Linked DNA regions of Homo sapiens: region 1 is linked to region 2. The links come from fine-mapping of genetic effects on gene expression. Tissue or cell type: whole blood. Region 2 holds a variant in brackets; the other region holds the start of a gene. All regions are shown on one strand. Distances are between the middles of the regions.

The links. PIP is the estimated chance that this variant, and not a neighbour inherited with it, causes the effect.
Region 1: it holds the start of KLF7, and the variant in region 2 is fine-mapped to the expression of KLF7 in whole blood (INTERVAL, PIP above 0.99).

The regions. Positions count from the first base shown.
Region 1 is chr2:207,162,340-207,170,445 of GRCh38, reverse strand. It overlaps KLF7 (KLF transcription factor 7), which reads left to right and starts at 4,498. Exons shown (of 4, transcript NM_003709.4): 1 at 4,498-4,979. The coding sequence starts at 4,878. MIR7845 (microRNA 7845) reads right to left here and starts at 4,046; the gene lies at 3,948-4,046. RefSeq lists silencers at 2,987-3,036, 3,657-4,296 and enhancers at 2,654-3,362, 3,363-4,070, 4,071-4,779, 4,787-4,886, 5,488-6,196 and 1 more.
Region 2 is chr2:207,072,564-207,080,669 of GRCh38, reverse strand. It overlaps KLF7 (KLF transcription factor 7), which reads left to right. Exons shown (of 4, transcript NM_003709.4): 4 at 1-6,533. Among named protein-coding and RNA genes, the nearest start is that of MIR2355, 33 kb to the left of the region's middle. The variant A/T (reference allele first, on the strand shown) is at 3,557.

The DNA of each region.
Region 1 (8,106 bases), 90 kb before region 2:
ATAATTTGCTGCATCTTCTACATTACTACTTGCTCCTTCCCTTGTACTTTAATGTCATGGAGATGACTTTTTCCCTTAAACCTCATAAATCGACCTCTGCTATCTTCCAACTTTTCTTCTGCAACTTCCTCACCTCTCTCATCCTTCGTAATATTGAAGAGAGTCAGGGTTTTGCTCTGGATTAGGTTTTAGCTTAAAAGAATGTTGTTGCTGGTTTGATCTTCCATCCACACCACTAAAACGTTCTCCATATCAGCAATAAAGCTGTTTTGCTTTCTTATCATCTGTGTGTTTATTGGAGTAGCATTTTTAATTTCCTTCAATAACTTTTTCTTTCCATTCACAGAGTGGCCAACTGTTTGGTGTAAAGGCCTAGCTTTTGGTCTATCTCGGTGTTTGATATACCTTCTTCACTAAGCTTATGTCTAGATTTTGATTTAAAGAGATATGTCACTCTTCCTTTCACTTGCACACTTAGAGGCCATAGTGGGGATATTAACTGGCCTAATTTCATTATTGTTGTGTCTTAACGAATAGGGAGGCCTGAGGAGAGGAGGGGAAGAGCCAGTCGGTGGAGTAATTAGCACGCACACACACACTAGTTAAGTTCTATGTCTTATTTGGGCACAGTTCATGGTGCCTTAAAACAATTACAATGGTAAAACCGAAATAACTGATCACAGATCACCATATCAGATATAATAACAAAAAAAGTTTGAACTATTGTGAGGATTACCAAAATGTTACACAGAGACATAAAGTGGGTACATGTTGTTGGGAAAATTGTGCTGATAAGACTTGTTCCAAGCAGGGTTGCCACAAACCTTCGATTTGTATAAAAAAGCAGTATCTGCAAGGCATAATAAAGCTATGTACAATAAAATGAGGTATGCCCATATAGGACAGAATGAATGTATTTTAATAACATTTAGTTTTATTTTCAAATAAAGTCTTAAGCAAAGCTTTCTTCACTGATTGGTCTGAAATTTGGTCCCAGCTTTAAGTAGATTTACTTTGAGGAGTACTAATCACACTGGGATAATAAAGACTTCCTACACTAATGAAGCAAAACTTTACTGGTGGAAACAGCCTGATGCCTTTAATGTGTGTATTCACATATTAAATTTTTACTATTTTATTCTTAAAATATCCTCATTTATTTCTAAGCTCCCCCCGGGTGGGGGGATAATTTATTATTTACTCTAGGGTGTTTTCTATAGGATTACTTCCAAAGATTGACATTATTAGAAGTAAAATGAACACCTCCCAAGGCAATACTTGTGGAGAAGACAGATTTTGGAGTCGATTTGGAGGCAGACCTGTATTCTAATCTGCTTTTACCCACTTACTGGACACATGGTAATGAGCAAATTACATGCACTCTCTAAACTTCAGTATCTTCATCTATAAAAATGGAGCACTAAGAGTTCCCTCACAGGATTGTGGAGATCAGAGGTATGTGTAAAATGCTAGGTACAAAGAAGGTAATCAACCAGTAAGTGGTAGTTACAACAGTGCAGTTTATTTTGGTTTGCTGAACTGCCAAAGTTCTCTTGTGATCTTAATTTGTTGATTACTTTGTACATCTGGATACCTTGCATGTGTTTTGCAATGTGAATCTTGGGTCTCTAGGGTATAAAAAGTAGCTAAATATAACTAATATTGAAAATGTGCCTTTCAGAATGCCTTGCTGCATAAATCTCTTAAAATGAATCTAAAATATTCTACAAAGCTTGGAGCAAAGACCATAATGAGGTTTGCAGTATTTGCTTTGTAAAATTTTGGTTGAGTCCTTTTGCAAGTCAGACGGCTGATAGTTACATAGGAAAAGTCTCAATGGAAGCCTCCTCCTCCGGCCCCACCCAAGCAATTTTTGTAAACACACACTGACTTAAAGCTGAGGAACCCCATTTTTCACCATACAAAGCTCAGTACAGAACAGTGTGGGGAGTCAGATGCTCTTGGATTTGAACCCCTGCTTGACCACTTCCAGGTTGTGAGACCTTGACCAACTTACTTAGTATTTCCAAGCGTGGGTATCTTCATCCATAAAGTTGGGGATACTTTGGGGCTGTCCTTAAGATTAAATGAGACATTGCATATAAAGTGTTTATGCGCATACGGCACATTCGAAGTGCTTAATAAATGGGAACTATTATTTGTAAAATCTTCAAACTCACGTTAACCGATATGTCCTATTTTATTCAAAAATTGTTATAATGTAACACACACAAAATAAGTTCACTTGAGTCTCAAGTACCAAATTATATGGTTGGTCTTGCCTCACCTTTTGCCTCTAGTTTTCTATACCCAAGTTCCTTTCCTTCCCCTATTATTCATGAACATGTTTTTTGCCCTAGTGTTTCTCAATGGTTCCTGCCCATCCCCCCAGTTGAAATAGCATGGGGGTCAGGGGAGAGCATGGAGAAGGGGAGACCTTGTAACAAACTAGCAAGGGGTTTCTACCTTTCCTCTATCTCCAAGATTCTATTAATAGTATATTCTCCTAAAGGTCCTATTAGTTTACATAGCTCAAGTGGGGAGACAATGATAGCTAATATTTAGTATTCACCTAATAGTGTCAGATACTATGCTAGGTGAGTTACCAAAGATATTTTGACTCTTCATAACAACTAGACAACGCGGATCCCACTATTTCTGTTTCTGAGATGGGTAGATACAAGTTCTGACCCAGTAATTCGCTCAAAGTCGTGCAGCTAGTTAGCTGGCAGCGTCCTTGCACATCTAATTGCAGATGCATCTGCATCTACATTAGAGTAAATGTTCCAATTATACTCATACAATGAATGCTATGAATCTGGCCAACAGAATTCCAGACACTAACAAGTAAATAAATCAGGCTTTCCTCAATCCCAGTAATTCATGTTTAATATTCCTTGGCAAATACTGAATTTCAATCTGTGCTTATTTCATAGAGTAGAATCTTTCAAATGTTGTGTTATCGAGTCCTACATAGTCAAAGGGAGGGGAAAGACAAGGAGGGTGATTAAGGTGAAGCGTTTCTTCCATTACTGGTAGAACGAAGTTTCTCATCTCTTAAGCACCGAATTCTGCAATCATTCCAAAAGTGGAAGCTCAGCTCACAGCGCATTTTGGGGAAGCTTAAACCACACTAACCATTTAAGGTCAAGCAAACAATTGGCCAACCCTAACGTGAATTGTGCAGGGTTTTCATCTCAGATGTAACAGATCTCTCTATGTCTACATCCCAACTCCAGAAAACGAGAAATCGAGTTCCTCCTCTCACCATCGAAGCTCTGCAGACACCTCGCTGGAGACCCCATGGTGAGCCTCATCACGTAAAGGCCCCCTCGCAAGCTGCCGGCTCCAGCTTGCGCCCCACGTCTACCTAGGCTCCCTCTAGCCTCTTTAACGCACAGTCGAGCAACAGGCCCCTTGCAATCAACTCTAGCCGCCGGACTCCCGACCAGGTCTCTCGCTCGGGGTCAGAAGGAGGCGCGGGAGGGAGGGCGGCGGCGGCGGCGCCCGCGGGGCGGGGCGGGGACTGTGCGCAAGCGGGGGGCGGGCGCAGGCCGCGGTCTCGCTCCGCTCCCCTTTGTTCTCTCCCATTGTGTGGCACTTCCTCCTCAGGCGCTTCTTCTCTGCACCCTGGCAGCCCGTGGGGAGTTCGGGAAGGGGCCCTGGATGCCTTTTCTGCTTGTTTTTGAGTACGTGAGGACCTCCCCGGCACCGCCTCGCGCGGGTCCCTGCCCCGTGCCCAGGCGGAGGCGGGGTGGCCACTGTCCTTCCTTCCCGCTCCGCGCCCTCGGCGGCTTCCCCGCGGCCCCCTGCGCCGCGCCCCCTCCAGGAGGCGTCCTGACCCCGCACTCCGGCCTTTCACCTCCCGACCGTCAGCCTCAGGGCCGCCGCGGCGACGCGCGACCCCTTCCCTCTGAGGGGCGCGGGCTCCGGACGCGCCGGGCTCTGCCAGGCATCTAGTGGAGGGTCGGAGGTCGGCGACCAGCCCGAGCCCAGCCGTCCCGGGAGCTGGCGCGAGTGTCGCCACGACCCTCCCTGTCCCTTGCGCTCGCGCTGCCCGGCCGCCGGGCGGCCGCCTCAGCCCCCTTATATAGCCCTCTAAAAATAGCTCGCCTCGCACCGCCTTGTAAGGCAGCAGGGAGATCCGCAGCGTGCCAATCCGCGCCCGCCGCCAGGGCCAAGCCCCGCCCCAGGCTCTGCTCCGGGCTCCCCATTGGTCCTCAGTGACTTCATGAGCCCCCTGTTTACCTTACATGGTCACACGCGGCCTAATGGACGCCCTCCTCGAGATCCCACGGCTGCGCGGAGAACCGAACGGAGGGAGGGAGTTTGGGGAGGGGGAAGAGCAGGAGGAGGAGAAAAGGGAGGGGGAAGACTACAAACTAGCAAGGATGGGGTGGGGGGTGGGGAGGGAAGGGAAGGGGGGGGAAGAGAAGCGATCGCGAGAGAAAAAAATGCAACCTCCCAAAATAAAGAGCAAAGATTGCATTAGGAGCGAACAGCGCTGCAGAAATAGATGGCAGCTTCGTGTCAGTGAGTTTGCATCCCCCTTCCTGATCCACGAGCTGGAGTGATTAGAGCCCTGGAAGGGAATTGTTACTCCCGTGGAGAAGTCCCCTTTTCCTGGCAGTCGTCTGCACTGTACACGCTGGATGCCTCTCTCCATCCACCCCACTCACTCGCTCCTCTCTCACCTCCTCTCTCCCTCTCCTGCATTGATTTTTTTTTTTCCTTTTTAGTTGACTGAAACAAAACAAAACAAAAGGGCCACTGGATGTCTGCCTTCTTGGGGGGTGAGCCAGACAGACTGACAAACAAACAGCCCCAACTGTGTTCGGGGGAGGGTTTCGCCTCCCGTTTTGCCCGGCAGCAGCAGCATGGACGTGTTGGCTAGTTATAGTATATTCCAGGAGCTACAACTTGTCCACGACACCGGCTACTTCTCAGCTTTACCATCCCTGGAGGAGACCTGGCAGCAGGTGAATGATTTAAATTACTTGTGTAAATCGTGTGGTGGCGGCGGAGACGCAGGGGCTGCGTTGGTGTGGGCTCTGGGTTGAAATTTTTGTTTGTTTGTTTGACTTTTTTTTCTTCCTTTTTGGCTGTCTGTTGTTGAAAATGTTTTCTGAAACAGTCATCTGCGCTTACCTCTCCACCCACCCCTAACCTCGTAGAGTGCCGAGCTGAGCAGCCGGTGCGAGCTGCCTGCGTTTCAGTCGCCAACACACATCCCTGCGCACACGTTGTCGGGTTTGCTGTCCCCTATCAGAGACCTGCCGAACTTCTGGGGTTCGGAGGAGCCGGGTGGGAAGGTGGTTTGGGGTGTTAGGAGCGATTGCTGACAGGGACCACGTTCTCGCATGCATGAGCTCTACCCACTTGATACCTGAAATCAGGTTCATCTGTTTCAACTGGTGCTTATGACCATCGGATGGGGGGCGGGGGAGGGTGGGCAGGAGCAAAGCGGAGTGTTTTTCAGTAATTAGCGAGTGTCAATAAAGAATAGGAGCTTGATTTTGAGATTAGAAGGTAGGCAAAAGAGAGAAGAGCCCACTGACAAAAGATACTCAAGGAGGACGGGAAGATGTAGCTGAGGCTGACAATGAATTGTAGGTTTTCCCAGTGTGATCCCTCCAGAAAGAGAACACCCTCTATGCGTGTCCTTGTTTCTCTTTTTTGTTTAGGGTCCTTCTCTAGTTAGGCAGCACAACCTCGGACAAAGGCTGATGTGTGCTTCCATGCCTTTGACTTTGTCTTAGAGGACTAGTTAAGAAACTCCCAGGATGCTGAAGGGCACCGATGCCAAGTTGGCTAGCCGTCCCAGGGAGGATGAAGTGGGGCTGGTGACAAGTTCACTGGGCTTTGTGAAGTGGAATAAAGAAAGTGCTGGTCAGTGGAAAGTGCTGGCTCTGCTGCGGAAACAGTGGTTTTTTTCAGCAGCGATTAGGAGCTGCTGAGGGGACATTCTGCAGGAAAGATGGTGGGTGGGGGCGGGGGGACACGGGTATTTAAAAATTGTACAGTGTGCACCATGGAAAGTCCAAGAAGACAGTCCGGATTTGCACATAGGAAGTGTGAACTTGTACAGTCCGTCCTGGAGAAACCCGCTTGCCCTTGGGGGGAGGGCTGTGAGAGGCTCGGTGTGTGGCTGCTCGTGTAATTTCTTCGCTTAGTGACAGCAGCTTGTTAAGGCTAATGAACGGCTGAATTTCCTCTGCCGGGATCCAAAGCAGGATTTGCCAGCTTGAGGCTGAGATGTAACAGTCTCTGCTTTAGCAAAAGAGGTTTGGCTTTTGGTATAAGGAGCCGAGTGGCAAGGCGGATCCTTTAACTGTACCATTGTTGCTAGTTCACTTCTGGTCAGAGGCTGTGAGTTTTCCTCCAGGTATTGGCGTCTGGTGTCTCTGTGTCCACACATGCATTCTTGTCCAAGGACGCTAGCAGATGCTTGACTCTGTCTCTCTGTAAACACATACACAGTTCACATATTTTTAGAATAAAGTCTTTCTTCAATGCATCCTTTTCCTTATCCTTAACGAGAGTGTGTCTCATGAAGGGTCTCACTGGATCTTTTTCTTCCTTTTATTTCCAATGCTAATTAAACCAAAATCTTCTGAAATAGCCTTCATTTCACACTGTCAGCCCACTGGTATGGAATCGGTTGCATATTAACAACTGTCTAGACAGGTTAGAGAAGGGAATCTGTTGATTTAGTCAGCCTGCCCAAGGCAGCCCTTGTTTGTGACTAACTGTTAAGCAGTGTTAGAAGGAAGAAAGTTGGCTTTATTTGTTAGAACGTTCCCTACTGATGAATCATGCAACTTTGTTTTGGTTCAAGTTTTCAGAGTAGTAAAGCCAGATTTGGAGGAAGGTCTCTTCACAGGAAACCTGCTTTTCTAGATCTGGCTAGACCATCCAGGACAAACTCTAGATCTGCAAAGAAACATCATCGGTTTGACAACTAGAGGATGTATTAGATCTATTGTTTCCTAAGAAGCCATCTCTGCTCTTCCTTCTCCCCTCCTCCCCCTGCTCCTCTGCCTCCTCCCCATTCAGGGAAGCTCTAGTTTAGTTTCTACAGGCAAAGGATTTTTCACCCCTCGGAACCCCCTCATTTTTTGCCTTAACCCTCTCCAACTGCCAGCCACTCTCACCTTAAAACCCTTAGCCAACTTATTCAGCGTCATGCTTATAGCCAATGCTGATGCATAGCTTGTGGGGAAGCACTAATAAACAATATATCACTCCAGTGAGCTTTATGTTCTGGACTCCGTAATCACAACTGCTCTATATAAAGGCGACTAGGACCATAGGTTTACACTGATGACAAAACCTTTAACCTCTAGCCCTTCCTTCTTCCCCCTCCCAAAACCGTCTTGCTGCTTCTGAGTATAAGGGGTGGTGATGGTGATATGCAACTGTTAGTTCCAAATCAACTATCGGATAATGAAATTTTGAGACTCTTTTGCTCAAAACAGCTCAACAGGGTTTCTGCAAAGAACCCCAGACAGGAAGAAGTTTCTTTATGCTCTGGGGTAATCAGATTTTAGAGGTCAAATGAGGAGTAATTATTAGATGTTCTTCTTAAAGTGAACAATGTACCTGGGCTCATGGAGATGAGCAAAATGTGGAGACTCTGATAATCTGACTTGGTTTCTAGAGAAAGAGTGGCTTCGATGATAAACTCAAGAACATTTTTACGTTTGAAAATTGAAGATAAACAATTTGGGGATTTTATTTTAAACTTAGGATATGGGATAATTGTCCTGCTTAATAGTCAGTGAGCCTGTGACAAAGTCACTGACTGTGGCAGGGCTCCCTCTCGTCACGGAGATCCTCGTTTTGACATTGGATTTTCTGGCAATGATGCCTTAGCCACATAGCTCCAAGTCTGAAAATAATCGTTGCTGGTATAATTCTGAAATCCAAATGGACATCACACATTAACAGCTCTCCATTCCTGGGCTCTGACTGCATACTTAAGCACTCGGCCCAAGTAACATCATCTTTCTGCCTGTCATATAACTGTAAATTACACTGTGCTTATGTGGTCTATTATTTTATAGAATTCAGCTGACGCGCAATTCTTAAGACTACCAGCCTTAA
Region 2 (8,106 bases):
CTTGGTTTATTTGTCCTTTGTGTGTGAAAAGTCCTACTATTCCGTGCGTCAGACTTCCTCACAGAACTGTTGACTGGTTTTGGTTCTTAGTACTATTGAGATCTTTCGCGTCGATCCCAACGGCCTTAGCGGCGGCAGACTGGAATAACACCTTACACCTTTCTGGCCTGCATTTCTGTAGACTTCACTCTCAAGGGAGGAGTTTTCTTTTCTTACGTTTTGACTTTTGCACACCATATGCACTAGGGATTCTGGAAACTTCTAGCATGACTGCAAAGTGGCCAAGAGAATAAAGTCCTTGATGATAAATCACAGTATATCCCTTGAGCCTCACCTTATTGCCAGTGCTAGATTTTTTCTTTTTAATCTCTCCGTTTTTGCTAACGAAAACTTGAAAAGCTTATTTGGAAGCTTAAATGTTTTATCTTTTCTCCATGGACTAAACCTCTCCAGGACTCTCTCGGCACCTGGATGTCCAGCTCTCGAAGCAGCCAGTCAGATGGGACATCACAGTTCTCTCATCCTCCTTGAGGCATGATGACCTCAGCTCATAGTGATCAACCGTTGTGCTGTGTGTCATTGCTACCCCATAACCAGTTACAGCATAGATGTCGCTAGTCTCAGAGGGCAGCTGCGTATTTAATTTAACTCTGGTTTATGACCTGACAAAAAGCCAAAAATATCACTCTTTCCAGGAGTGGGGAAAACTGAGGATGCCTCCCAAGTCTAGTGGCTTCACAAAAGATCATCCTGTCTTCTCTGTCATGCCCACTGAGCTCCTATTCCCCTACGTGTTACAATACACAATTTAAAACGCCATTGTGGGAGTGAAGGGTTGACATTTAAGGAAAAGGTTGAGGTGTTTCTCTCATGGGCTGTCTAAAAGGAGAGACACGTTTCTTTCTTTCCTTTTTTTTTTGGCTAGGCCCACCATGACTTGTGACCTAGAACCCCCAGGATTAACAGAGGCCTCACATTTACTCTGCAAGCTGACTCCAAAGGAGTCTACAGTCCTTACTTGTCATGCCACACTCACACATCCAGTAGTGGTCTCTATCTACCCGCATTCCTAGCTAGCTGGCACTGGCCTCAACTCCAAAGACTGCCTTTAGGACCATCAAATGGCCTATGCAAGCAAGCGGGGTGGTTATTAGGACAGATTGTATATTTTGTATATTCTGGGACCATCCCTTCAAGACACGTCTATAAAACAAAAATGGCGCTTGGTCCACACACGGTTGCTGCTCCCTCCTACCAGCTGGCTCCCCTCCTGTCCTCCTTTGACTGTTTGACTCATTGACTGTTAAAATGCCACCCCATACATATTTGGGATGCAAAACTGAAGTCAAAAGGAAATAATATAAGAAACACAAACACATATATGACAGCAACCTTCAAGATCTGGGTTTTCAGCTTTCTGCAACCTTTGTTTTCACTGAAATGTTGAAACTACTCGTCTGAGGGCAAAGGAACCTCCTCACAAATGCTATAGCTGCCAATTGGACACTTGGGGCATTTCGAGGTCTGGCCCTAAGAATTTACTTTCTCCTTTTCCTTTTTTCTATTTAGACCAAAAAAAACAAAAACAAAAACAAAAAAAAAAACAAAATAATACAAAACGAAAAAAAAAGAAAGAACACCCGTTAACACACACGCGCACACACACACAAAATCTGTCCATTTGCCGGAGGCAATTGTATGTATGTTAGTTGGAGGGTATTAAAAATCAGTTTTATTCCAAAGATTTAAAACTAGACATGACTTAAAAACAATTTCTGGAGCACTGCTTGCTGACAATCTCGTAGTTCTCTGCTGCATTTGAGTGCATTTTGTGGCCAGTCCATCAGGGCGTACCATGGGATTATATTTGAATGTGTGGTGCATCCTTCCTGGATGAAGGATGTGTGAGGGACCTTGAACCTCAGCTGTATTAAACTGTAGCGCCTCCAGTCAGTGCACTAGATGAAACTTTTAGACACCCTGAATTCTGTTGGTTCCTTTCTTTTCCTTTATGTAGCAGCCTCCAGCATGAATGCACGCACACGCCAGTGATGGCATTAAGCCATGGCCACCACGATTTGCAAATGTTCTCTCCCAAGCTGGAGCTGCTCTTGCCTCTCGAATGCTATTATTAAGGGTTTATAATACTTAATTTAATTTTCGAACTGACCAATGCAAGGCTCTATTAAAAAGAAAGTTTAAAAAATGCAAAAGAGTAATCATTGCTTGTTTGCTCCCTATTTTCATCTGTGGTCTCATTTGAATGTGGCAGAACAAAGGCCCTTTGGTCCTCATCAGTGTCTGAAATGTTCAGTAATTTCTCTCTCTTTTGTATCAGTGAGGTCCTTTGTAATCTGCTCCTGACCTTTCTTGGAGCAGGGTGCATTGAAACTCAATGGTGGTGCTTGCTTGCTTCAGAGTCATTTGTTGACTGTGAGAATTGGCCTAAGAATTTGGTGGGTGCTAAGTGGATGGCTTTGAAACTGTTCTTCTTTAGCCGAGTTGACACCTGTGAATGATGACCAGTCCTGATCATTTTGGAAATGGATTTGTAATAAAACGTCCATCACCTCTGCAGTGGCAGAGATGGTTACTAAGAGCCGCTAGAGCGAGCAGGTTTTCCAAGAAGTAACCTGAAGACATTTTGCTCCCAAGAGGACTGGTTATTTAAAACAGTGCATTAATGGACATTTGAAACACATTAAACCCCTTTCTCATTTCAGTTGTTACCTCCTAACCCTCCAGGGGATCCCAAATTTGAAAGGAAAAACCCGGCCTGGTGTTTCTGGTGGTGTCCTAACAAGCACGCTTTTATCCAGGGTTCAGATTTGTTCATGTAGAAAAAGAGTTTCTAAGCCACTGACAATTTTTTTTTTTTGTAATTTCAAATTATACTTCTTTCTCCTGCCACATGACTGTAAGTCATAGACATGGAAACCTGAAATTATAATGCTGCTCCTAGCTACTGGCCTCCTGCCCCACCCATGGTTAATGGCTCAGCTCAATGCCTGGTGGTAATGAGTATTATGTCCAGAAAAAGAGATGTTCAGATTCCATGACAAAGCTGCATTTTTGTAAAAATATTGGAGACCCCAAAATGAACTTCATGCTGACCATTTCCTCCTCTCTGTGTGCTTTCCCTTGCAAAGCCCTTCAAATATCCTCTTCTCTCGACGCCATCTCCTCTCCACCTGCACCTCTTGTGCCCTTTGTACATCTTTGATTGCCTGATGATAACAGGGTAAAAGGACAGCCAACCTCATGCCTGATTAGCAGAACTGAATCCTAGTTTTAAAAAATCTTCTCTGGCTTCAGAGAAGATTTTATAAGGACTTTTGTTTGGGATAAGCTTTCCAGATTATCCATGTCTATTTGCATCAAAGGGGAAAGAAATGGGGCTTTTGGATGGCTCTTCCAGTGCATTCGGAACATTGCCTCTTGCCTTTATTCCTGCATTTTATGGCAAAGCCAAAAGAAACTCAAGTTGCAAGAACAAAACCCAGTGACTCGTTTTGATGGTTCAAAATGGTTTCCTTTATGGAAGTCACTTCATAAA[A/T]TGTTAAGTAAAAAGTGGGAAGTGCTTCTGTCTTCTCTTTTGCATGAGTTGCTTTTAGGAGCAGGAAGAAGGTAGGCAAAGTAAGATAAAGATGCAACACATTTAACTACAAAAATCAGGTTCATTTTTTAGTTTATTAGAATTTTTTTGAAATCTTAAGAGGGCCAGCATTTCTGGCTACAATTTTGCACCCAGAACATTGCCAAAATGAACATTCAGTAAATAGAACCTGATTGAAATTTACTCCTGGAAGCTTTCCTTTGCATTTTCGGGAAGTGGCCACCTGCCAAGCGCAAGAGTTGGGGGGCAGGAGGGGAGGACTCAAATTCAGGGTGTCTGGATTAAATTTCGGTGAACATGGTGATATCTCAGTTTGAAAACTAGAGGGCCTATCCTGAGTATACATCAATGTCTCTTTGATGGCCTACTTTCCTCAGTGAGGATCTTTGGGAATACTTGAGATGGAACAACAGAAATGTGTGAAAGGAAGCAGAAACTTCTTGTAAATAACGTGACCTCCCACGACGAACTGCCTGAGGCTTCAGGGTTTTTTCTTGCTTTTAACACTCTTAAATCTCCTCTGTTGGTTCCTAATAGATCCCAGAAAAGGGAAAAATAAAGCTGCAGTTAACTTTCTTATGTGCATCCTTCCAATAGAGTACTGTATTTTTCAGGTGTTTTGCATTTAACATAAAAGTCCTCGGGAAACAGGTGTCAAAAACAGAGAGAGAAATCCTGGGCCATCACTTCACAAATATCCCAAACAAGATATTCTTTTCAAACAGGGCTCCCTCTCAGTGGTCATGAGGGAAGGTTGATAATGTTCTTTGTTGGGGACTGTTTATACAATTTTTTTTCAACTGTGAGCTTTGGAATCGTAACTTGCTGTGAGTCCAGCTTCTGTCTACTGCCATAAGATGGACCCCACGTCAGCATAATGAGGGTGGTATATATGCTCGCACCTAGACATGCGCATATGTACCTGTCGTACCTTCACGGAAGGAAAACAGGCTACTGACGTTTCGGAGGAGTAGCCACCAGTGCCTAATATCTTTTGGGGGGGATGGATGCTTATAATTGCCAGTATATCGAAACCACACTGGGAGTTCCACATAGCGGGGAGGGGTTGGGGGTGGGCAGAGGGGACATTTTAAACCTAGGCCTTTGGACTGGAGGCAGAACGATTTCTGCAAACCTAGGTCCTGAAGGCTTTGGGGCTTATTGGCTGGTTCTCAACCTTTTTGTTTTTTCTTCCCAGCATGCATTTCCTATCTAAACCCAGACTTAGTTTAATTTCCTTATCTTTCACTTCTGCTTCATTCCAGGGAGGAAAAATACACCTGTTAATGGCCAAGATCTCCTTGCTAACACAGAGGCAAAAATAAATGTCTAATGTTTTTGAAGCCTCCCCTTCCTTTCCACAAGCCCCCACCCGCCCCCGCGTCAAGCTCCTTCTCCCACTTCCTACTCCCACACAACTTCCCAGCCACTGAAACTTTTCTTTCAAATCTCTATTATCCTCTTAACAGTTGCTTGAATAAATTTATTTTTGCACTATACATTTTCTTTTTGCCAGATGTGTCTAACAAGTGTGTTTGGAGAGACCTACTCCCAGCCCCGTCTCCTTCCCCGCCTCCCCCCGTCACATTCTCTCAGGCCTTCTCTGGTATTTATAATATATCACAGAAGTACCCAGTCTTATAGCCCTCGGTTATGCCTTTTTTTGACATTTTATTTTTTTTAAGCTTTTTATATATATATATATATAAATATATTACTTTGTCAAGTTTTTTTGCTGTACAAAAGTCTTAAGATTTAAAACTATTATTTGTATTATATGATGGTGGTATGTTAATGTTACAAAATTATTAATGAAGAAAAAATTTATTTTTGTTACTGGTCTGTTTCATAATTCTTTTTTAAATTGGTATATTGTAAGATATCTATGCAAAAAATGTTATGTGACGCATTTTTATTTAAGAATGTAATATGTGTAATAAACAGTAGAATGTGTTTGGCCTTGGAATACTTTACTGTATTTCTCCTTAGCTTGTTTCACTGGGGAAAAAAATCTTCGAAAGACGCAAGTGGGTACTTACATACTTCGTGAAAGTTTTCTTTCTTGGAGAAAGGGAAAGCAAAAGGTTGTATTAGGTTATCTTCGTTTGGGAAGTTGTGTGTGTGTGTGCGTATGTGTGTATTTTATAGTTTCATTGAGGCAGCTCAATGCCCAAATAAGGGTCACTGAGTTTATTTCTTCAAGGGGAAAAAGGGAGCCAATTGTTGGAGATTATGAAAAGCAATATTTTAGAATGATAGAGATTACAAGATGTTATTTGTTTAGGGGGTTGGGAGAGGCTTATTGAAAGCGGTTTATTTGGCGAGAGAAGGAGGCAGTTTGTTCTGGGATGGTGTTTAATAGGAACCTATTGGGAAAGGATCTTTGAAGCAGTCTGTGAAGGAGGAAGGGTAAAGATCAGAGGGAATAATTTAGGTGAGGGGTAGGGGGCAGTAAAATGACAGGAGGTGGTTGGAGTGGGGAGGAAATGGGTAACCGGAAGCCAGGAAATCCAGCTGGCTGTGGAGAGTACAAAAAACTAGATGGAAATACAAGCAGCTTCAGACCCAGAGAAGAGAGGGAGATGAAAGCCCCAGGGAAAATTCTCAGAACTGAAAAGAAAAGTACTAAAATCTCTGCCACACACGACTTCCAGGAAAGAGCATCACCAGTAAGGAGGAAGGTAGAGAACCCAGCTGGTGGTGTCGCCTCAGCATCCCGAGCTCAGCGATTCCCCGAGAGAAGTGGTGTCATTCACAGGAAACAGCAGTAAAACACATTTGTCACATGGGACACAGCAGTAGTCAAGCTTTCTTTGCATTCTTTGGACTTACAGAAGTGGATACGGTGGTGAATAACCTCTATCCCTAATCAAATGAATCTGACAAGAAACTTTCCAATAAATGTTTACTTTAGAAACCGTGGCTAGTGTGACTGAATTTGCTGCATGGACACAGACATTTCTCATGTCCCTGAACAGGAAACAGGTGTCAGGAGTGTAACAGCGGGTTTGGAAGGGAAGCTGAGTGATCAAGTTCTTGCTCTCATAAAACTCAAGGTGAAGAGAACAGTAGGTGCTGCAGGGGCCGGGAAAATGGTTTTGAAGTGTTAAGCATCAGCTGCCACATCTCCCGAACAGGCAAGTGAGCTGGGCAACACGGCAGCTCAAAGCTGACTGAGAAGAAACCACATGTGTAGTGGGGAAAACACAGCCCCTGGAGTCTGAAGACCTGCCTCCTACTCCCTGTGTCTTCAGTAGCTCTGGGACTAGATGAGTAATTTCATTCTGATAACCAAAATCATTTACCTGGAAATTTCTCTGAGTGAGGAAGGATAAGATAGCTTGGCAATATTACCTAGAAGAAGGCTCATTATTCCACTCCCTGACTTACAAAAAGATATCACATTGAACATTTTAGGTGAAGGACAAATTGCACTGTACTGAAATGTTCAGACAAGAGGGTGGTAAGTCTAATCTATCTGCCATAAGGAAATGAGATGGTTTACATAAGTGAATATGCTAAAAGACTTAAGCTTACATATTTAGAAATGAAATTTTTGCTTAAGACTGGTCTAAATATATATATTGCCCACTTTACAACCTTTTTGAGCATCCATTTTTACAATATAATATAAATTCAGGGATGACTCCAGACTGCCGGGTTGCTTGCCCTGGCACAAAATGACTCTATACTTTATATTGGGTGATTCTACTTTCTCTTCTGTGTTCTCCCTATTTAGAAGTTGCAAGTTCTTTGTGTGTCATCTTCTAGAAATATTTATCTCCTAGTCAACTAGACGATCAACTAGGCAAGCTTGGTAACAAGAATTCTTAAGTGCAAAAACAACTATAATTTGAATCCAACAGGCAGTAGTCTGAAAGTGTAACCTGCATGTCCTAGGGGGAAGAAGGTGCGTACCAGCTATAATCTGTGGTTGTATATGGAGTTGGGAATGCTGGGGTAATGGAAAGAAGTCTCATAAAAAGCAGAGTTCAGTGGAATTGATAAATAATTTATTATTTGTAGCTCATTTTCCACTTACAGGTTTAGAAGAGGAGATGGTTAAAACTTTTAGCTAAAATAAGATTTTGAGGTCACTGGCAGGTGATGGTTTTCTGTTTTATCCATGAGCCAATTCCTAATTCCTTCTCCAACATTAAATATTTTATCTGAGAGTTTAAAAACTATCAACAGTTACTGGCTTGAACTTAACCTATTAACTTTTTTGCCTGATCATGATATAGCTATACATACAACAACACTATATTTAAAAATGAGGAAGTGATGACAAAGTTACAGGAGGGTGGAAGAACAAAATTTATGTTTGTTTTATAAACATTTACTTATGTTTCTGAAATTTTTCATTTTACGTACACTGCATTTGAGTAGTCCAATAAGACTGCATACACTGAATAGGTATTATTCATCACCATGACCATTTGCTCTCACAAATGGTAAAACTGGGGGCACAGAAAGACAAATATTGCATT